2 linked regions of the Homo sapiens genome follow. The protein of the gene in region 1 purifies or fractionates together with the protein of each later gene. This does not show direct contact. Each region holds a gene or a part of one and is shown on either strand. Other genes may lie near its edges.

Region 1 (3,652 bases):
GAGGGAGGAAGTCAATTTGTTGAATAGATTGTGAAGCTCAGAAGGCACAGTAATCTGTGTTGTGCAAACCCTTATCAACTCCATTGGGGATGGCAGCATGTTCAAGAGGCTGAAAAACAGCCAGCAAGTGAGACATGAGGTTTCATTGAGGACCTACGTACAGGGCAGAGAGTCCGGGGGTAGAGGGCTGGGCAAGAGAACTGCAACCGCTTGCAAAAGGCATGCAGTTTATAAAGCATCTTCACTTAGTACTCTCCCACTGACAACCTCCACCTGGCAACCTTCATTTAATCCAAAAACAAAGGGCCTCAATCCCCTCTACGGCCCGTGTTCCACGGGACCGACCTGGGTGTCAGGTCTTCCTCATAGACAAGGAATGGATCTCTGGGCTGGCCACTCCCAGATTCCGTAGCTCAGATTTCCCAGCCACATTGGGGTGTGTGTGCCACCCAGGGTCATTTTGGGGTATGCTGATGTTATCGCTCTCAGGTGTATTTACTTCATAATTTGAAAGGCAAAGTGCTTTTGATTTGAAAAAGCAGGACCCCAGAGTGAAAGAAATTGTTTATCTTTTTAAGTTCCAAAAAGCACTGGTTTGGAAAAATCACAAAACAAGTCATGGAGGCCTAGAACGTAGCATTTACTGACTGAACTATAGGGTTTAGAAAGCATGCCATCCAACTACCTTTAGGGGAAAGAGGGCTTTTGTTACTTCCCAGGCAAAACATCACAAGACTGCAGCTCAATCAGGGGCTGGAGCAATGAGATGCCTGGGTGGAAACTGGCAACAGCTAAGGAAAATCTAGGTAGATAAGCCTGAGGGCAATCACAGAAACCTGAATACCCAGCCTGTGCGTGTCTGAGTCCTAACAGTGGCTCAGAAGCATTTGCTAAAAGGGGACTGAAAGAGGCTAACAGAGGACGAAGAGGGCCCAGGACACAGGGAAATTTTGAGCAGAGGTCACTACACAGACAATGGAACGAGCCACAGAAGCTTGAGCAATGCCCCAAAGGCCACAAGGGACTGAGCTACCCTTTAGTCTGAAGCCAATAATAGCAGATGATGGGTGTGAGCCAGATATCTCTTCCCAGTCGCTGGACAACAGGTAAACCCCTTTCTATTTCATTCCTTGGGAGGGTAGCTACACAGGGTGGAGAAAAAGAGTCTTTTTTCTGAGATGGAGTCTCGCCCTGTTGCCCAGGCTGGAGTGCAGTGGCGCGATATCGGCTCACTGCAACCTCTGCCTCCTGGGTTCAAGCAGTTCTCCTGCCTCAGCTGCCTGCGTAGCTGGGACTACAGGTGCATGCTACCACGGCTGGCTGAGGGGTCTTGAATCTGAATAAATACTTACCTAAATAAGACTAAATCTAAACATAGAAGTGATTGCAAGATCATCATTTTCTACCATGGTGGAAATGGAGGCTTTGAAAGCTAAATGGAATTCATTTCTAGAAAAATGAAGAAAGTTACATGTCTGATTCCTGAATTTGGCCTGCAGCTTTCAATCAACTGTAATAAGAGAATCTAGTCGCCTGCCTCTAAGGCAGTTTCTTCTCTGTAGGTCCTGGGATCTTGCTATGAAGTTAAAAAGGCTTCTTTGAATGGCATTCTTTTTGCTAGAGGATGAGGATCAGGGAAAAATGTTATAGAATCATGAATCACAAGATATCCATATTCCTATTTGAGAGACAGAATTGGCGCCAGAACCCAGGTCTACCAAGATGCATGGATGAACTCTGAAAGCCTCAAGACTCTTGAGGGATAAATTCAACCAAGCAGCATTGACGGGCCTGCCTTAGTAAAGAACATTTACTTCAGAGACAAGACGCACAGCACTGACATGTCTGATTATTATAATTTGCATCAGACTCAGCAAAGTTGTTGACTAGCACATGGCCTCAAGTGAATATTTCTGATTAAGGGAAGAAAAAGACATAATTAAGAGGTAATCGGCTGATGTGGTGGCTCACACCTGTAATCCCACCACTTTGGGAGGCTGAGGTGGGCAGATCACGAGGTCAAGAGATTGAGACCATCTTGGCCAACATGGTAAAACCCCATCTCTACTAAAACTACAAAAATGAGCTGAGTGTGGTGGCACACGCCTGTAGTCCCAGCTACTTGGGAGGCTGAGGCAGGAGGACCGCTTGAACCCAGGAGGTGGAAGTTGCAGTGGGCTGAGATCGTGCCACTGCACTCCAGCCTGAGGGCAGAGTAAGACTCCGTCTCAGAAAAAAAAAGGAAAAGAAAAAAAGAGGTAATCAATTACTAACATTGCACAGACTTTAGCTTCCTTTTCCCTTCCTGCTGCTTTTAAATTTTTTCTCCCTGAAGGGAGTATTCCTGGGGAGAAAAGTTGACTCATGCCTCTGTCCTTCCTGGCTCTCATTTGGGACGTGTTTAGCCTTGGAAGGAAGTCAAAGGACTGGCTATGTGATGGATACATCCTCTATTTCCTTTGCCTCATCAAAGGCACAGCCTTTCTGTCAATTTTCCTGGTACTAAGGGTGGGAAGGAGACCTATGACTACCATAATAAATAGCAGTAACTTTCTAATTGTTTACCTAAAATGCAACCCAGGAGTTGAATTTCATTAATCACCCTGACATTTTTGGGGTAGGAATTACATAAGGGACCTAGATTTTTGAATTATTTTAAATTTGGATATATTATGTATACAAACCTCTCCCCAGTAATAACAACTAACCACCATTGATTAGCATAATGTAACCTAAGAAAATAAATTTAACTAGATGTTCTTGAAATTGCCACAGGTAGGAAGCATTAGTATACGATATAATACCAAATCCACTTTGAGCCCACTATGACGTCTCCATTAGTGTCATAAAAGGTTTATGGCAAATTTATAAGAATATGTTGCGGTATCCTTTTTGTCTAATCCCAGAGGAGAGAAGAAAGCCAAAGGCCTGAAATTAATGATGTATATTTAGGCAGTCAGCTTACTGGATGCTGCCCCAAACCAAAAAATAGCTCTACATATGGAAAATTCCCAATCAGGGGAGGGGCTAGTGGAAAGAGACAAGGTTTTTATAAGTAGTTGAAACTGTCATTTAACTATTAATGACTTCTAAGTATTTATTGAAACCATCTTAAACATAAAAGTGAAAATCAAACCCTAAAACCAAGAAGTCTGATGTTCTCTGCTAAAAAACCTGGACAGTGAAATAATCTTTTAAGACAAATCAATGTCTTCATATAGCATGCACAATACATAAATTACCTGTGCCTCATGGCTTTCCATGTGCCTTCAATGTGAATTAGGTAAATCAAGAATAGTTATGGTTCCTATCATGAACCAGTTCTTTTTTTCTCCACTTTAAAATGTTCAGTCTATCTTTGGAAAACCACAAAATATGGCTGGAAGAGATACATATATTTTTTGAGACAGTCTCACTCTGTCGCCCAGGTTAGAGCTCAGTGGCTCGATCTTGGCTCAGTGCAGCCTCCGCCTCCCGGGTTCAGGTGATTCTTGTGCCTCAGCCTCTAGAGTAACTGGGACTACAGGCATGCATCACCATGCCCAGCTAATTTTTGTATTATTAGTAGAGACGGGGTTTTACCATGTTGGCCAGGCTGGTCTCGAACTCCTGACCTCAACTGATCCACCCACCTCGGCCTCCTAAATACTGA
Region 2 (3,652 bases), on another chromosome or scaffold:
AGGCCATCCGTTTCCAGGCCATTCTGAGATCCAAGATGCCAACTCCTTGTTTCTATGAAACTTCACGAGATGTGCCAGTCAGAAATGGCATGCTGAACATTCTGCAGAGCTGCAGCACTGGCCTGGGCAGCCAGGGCTACCACACTGGTGACAGTGCTGCTGGTACCTGTGATGGCTCTTCTGGTATCCATATCTTATACACAACACCTATCCGTAGGAAGAACTTCCGCAGAACTGCTCGGAGCTCAGGGATCAGGTCAAACTGCATAATTTCACACAAGTAGGGGTAGTACATTGAAGCATGTGCTTTGAACTTGAGGTGGGAGAGAAACAGATAAAATTAGACAATTTTTTTTTTTTTTGGGCACCAGTTTTTCAGAAGTGTTAATCTCACCCTGGAACTTATTACAATATTGGTGCTTTTCTTGCTATTAGAAAGTTGGGGCCGAGCGCAGTGATTCACGCCTATAATCCCAGCACTTGGGGAGGCCGAGGCAGGTGGATCGCTTGAGCTCAGGAGATCGAGACCAGCCTAGGCAACACGGTGAAACCCTGTCTCTACCAAAAATACAAAAACTTAGCTGGGCATAGTGGCGCGTGTCTGTGGTCCCAGCTACTCAGGAGGCTGAGGTGGGAGGATCGCTTGAGCCTGGGAGGCAGAAATTGCAGTGAGCTAGATTACGTCACTGCATTCCAGCCTGTGTGACAGACCAAGACTCTGTCTCAAAAAAAAAAAAAGAAGTTGAAGAAACCTTGCAAATTAAAGCTTCTTTCAGTTATATTTAACTTTAATTAAATTTGGATAGTCTTGCTGCCAAAAGTCAACAGCTCTTTTATTTTGTAAAGCAGGTTCCTAGGTCAAAACTGGTGCTTCACAATCTTAACCCTCTCTTCCTGCACTGAAACTCACCATACCATTCCTAACAGCAACACATGAGGTCTACACTTCAGCCGTTCTCAACTACTGTTCTTCCAGGCAAAAAGCCCTAATATCCTGTGGCACCCATTGTCCATAACGGATTAACTTCTCTCCAATGCATCTAGAATGGTGCTAGTCACGTAACCATCCTTGGGAGAACTGAGAAAATAGTTACTGCAAACTCTTGAGTAAAAAGCCAACCCAAACTTTATGTCCTAGTGAAAATTGGTCAGAGTTTACTTGTTCATACCTTTTCATCATTTATTTTGAGGGTTTTAGTTAGAAGTAACAACAAGAGACTTGTCCAGGCCTCCCGATGGCTCTCAGAATTCACAGTGATGAAATAGGCAAGAGCTTCACTGCAAACACTAGAAGAATTAGAGAGGGGGAGGCATATCAAACAATTGATTAACATCTCACATTCAGGGGAGAACTATTCATTCTTGTGCTATTTTTAAAATTATTTTAACATGTTTTTTTTAATTACTTTTTTTTTTTTGAGACAGGGTCTTGCTCTGCGGCCCAGGCTGGAGTGCAGTGGTGTGATCAAGGTTCACTGTAGCCTTGACCTCCTCGGGCTCAAGCTGATCCTCCCACCTCTGCCTCTGAAGCAGCTAACACTACATGCTTGCGCCACCATGCCTGGCTAATTTTTTTGATTTTTAGTAGAGATGGGGTTTCACCACGTTGCCCAGGCTGGTCTTGAACTCCTGGGCTCAGCAATCTGTCTGCCTTGGCTTCCCAAAGTGCTGGGATTATAGATGTGAGCCTGAGCCTCTGAGCCCAGCCACTGCAATAACTATTGAGCACCCACTCTGGCTGTGCTATCTTGGGCAAATCACTGAGCCTTAGTTTCTTCAGCTATAAAATGGAGATAAAAAATTGCCTGGCCAGGTGCAGTGACTCATGCCTATAATCCCAGCACTCTGGGAGGCCAACGCAAGCAGATCACTTGAAGCCAGGAGTTCGAGACAGCCCGGCCAATGTAGCAAACCCCCATTTCTACTAAAAATAGAAAAATTAGCTGGGTGTGGTGGTGCGTATCTGTAATTCCAGCTACTCAGGTGGCTGAGGCACAAGAATCACTTGAACTCAGGAGGTGGAGGTTGCAGTAAACTGAGATTGCACCACTGCACTCCAGCCTGGGCGATAGAGTGAGACTATCTCAAAAAAAAAAAAAAAAAAAAAAAAAAAAAGTCCAAACTCAAGGGGTTGTTGTGAGGATTAAATGAAGTAAATATGTTAAGTCATAACTTGGCTCAGTCCTGGCACATGGCTAGGGCTGAACTCAATCAATGTCTGTAGCACAAGAGCTTATTACTCATAATTATATAACTGCCTTTCTCTCCTCACAATCACATTTAATTGCTTTTTTAAAAAACATGCCAAAAACTTGACATTTACATATCTCTTTTTTTTATTTTGAGACGGAGTCTTGCTCTTGTTGCCCAGGCTGGAGTGCAACAGCACAATCTTGGCTCACTGCAACCTCTGCCTCCTGGGTTCAAGTGATTCTCCTGCCTCAGCCTCCCGAGTAGCTGGGATTACAGGCGCCTGCCACCATGCCTGGTTAATTTTTGTATTTTTAGTAGAGACAGGGCCATGTTGGCCAGGCTGGTCTCAAACTCCTGACCTTGTGATCCACCTGGCTCGGCCTCCCAAAGTGCTGGGATTACAGATGTGACCCACCGCGCCCGGCCCTACATATCTCCTTTAGAGAAACTTTATGAGACTGTAGGTATTTGTCTTTTGGGCTTAAGCTGAAATGAGCCATTGGTGCCTCCTTTAATTAATTAATTCTTTTTTCACTTTATGACTTGTTATTCTCATTGTAAGGTAACTGATATATGTAAAAAATTATGAAAAAAATTATAAAGAAAAATAGCTACATCATTCTAAGGGATACATGACAATATTTTGGCATATTTCCTTCCAGTTTTTTTTTTTTTTGCTAAGATTTCAAAAGAAAAATTGCTCGCCTGTAGTCCCAGCTACTCAGGAGGCTGAGGCAGGAAGAGCTCGTAAGCCCAGGAGTTCGAGACCAGCCTAGGCAACATAGCAAGACCCTGACTCTAAAAAAACAAATAAAATGCCCCAATTGCTGAAAATTCCAAGTAAAAACACTTTTGCAGCTTTTTTTGGGGTAAAAATTATTGTATTATGAAAAAGTTCCCACATTAAGTAAAATTATTTCTTAAAAATTTCACTTTTAGGCCGGGCGCAGTGGCTCACGCCCATCCCTGCACTTTGGGAGGCCGAGGTGGGGGGATCACGAGGTCAGGAGTTCAAGACCATCCTGGCCAATATCGTGAAACTTTGTCTCTACTAAAAACACAAAAATTAGCCAGGTGTGTGATGGCACACGCCTGTAGTCCCAGCTACTCGGGAGGCTGATGCAGAAGAATCACTTGAACCCGGGAGGCAGAGGTGGCAGTGAGCCAAGATCACGCCACTGCACTCCAGCCTGAGTGACAGAGCAAGACTCTGTCTCAAAAAAAAAAAAAAAAAAAAAAATTCACTTTTAGGCTGGGCACGGTGGCTCATGCCTGTAATCCCAGCACTTTGGGAGGCGGAGGTCGGCAGATCACCTGAGGTCAGGAGTTTGAGACTAGCCTGACCAACATGGTGAAACCCCATCTCCACTAAAAATACAAAAAACCAGCCAGGTATGGTGGCACGCGCCTGTAATCCTGGCTACTCAGGAGGCCGAGGCAGGAGAATTGGTTGAACCCA

The links. The genes of interacting proteins can lie anywhere in the genome.
Region 2: the proteins of ITGA8 (region 1) and ARFGEF2 purify together in Homo sapiens (affinity purification with mass spectrometry; one large-scale study listed by BioGRID and IntAct). This does not show direct contact.

The regions. Positions count from the first base shown.
Region 1 is NC_000010.11:15,639,897-15,643,548, forward strand, and holds part of ITGA8 (integrin alpha-8 isoform 1 preproprotein), read right to left. Parts: intron 1-3,652. UniProt on the Homo sapiens protein: Integrin alpha-8/beta-1 functions in the genesis of kidney and probably of other organs by regulating the recruitment of mesenchymal cells into epithelial structures.
Region 2 is NC_000020.11:49,029,684-49,033,335, reverse strand, and holds part of ARFGEF2 (brefeldin A-inhibited guanine nucleotide-exchange protein 2), read right to left. Parts: intron 1,288-3,652; coding exon 1,170-1,287; intron 314-1,169; coding exon 137-313; 3' UTR 1-136. UniProt on the Homo sapiens protein: Promotes guanine-nucleotide exchange on ARF1 and ARF3 and to a lower extent on ARF5 and ARF6. Promotes the activation of ARF1/ARF5/ARF6 through replacement of GDP with GTP. Involved in the regulation of Golgi vesicular transport.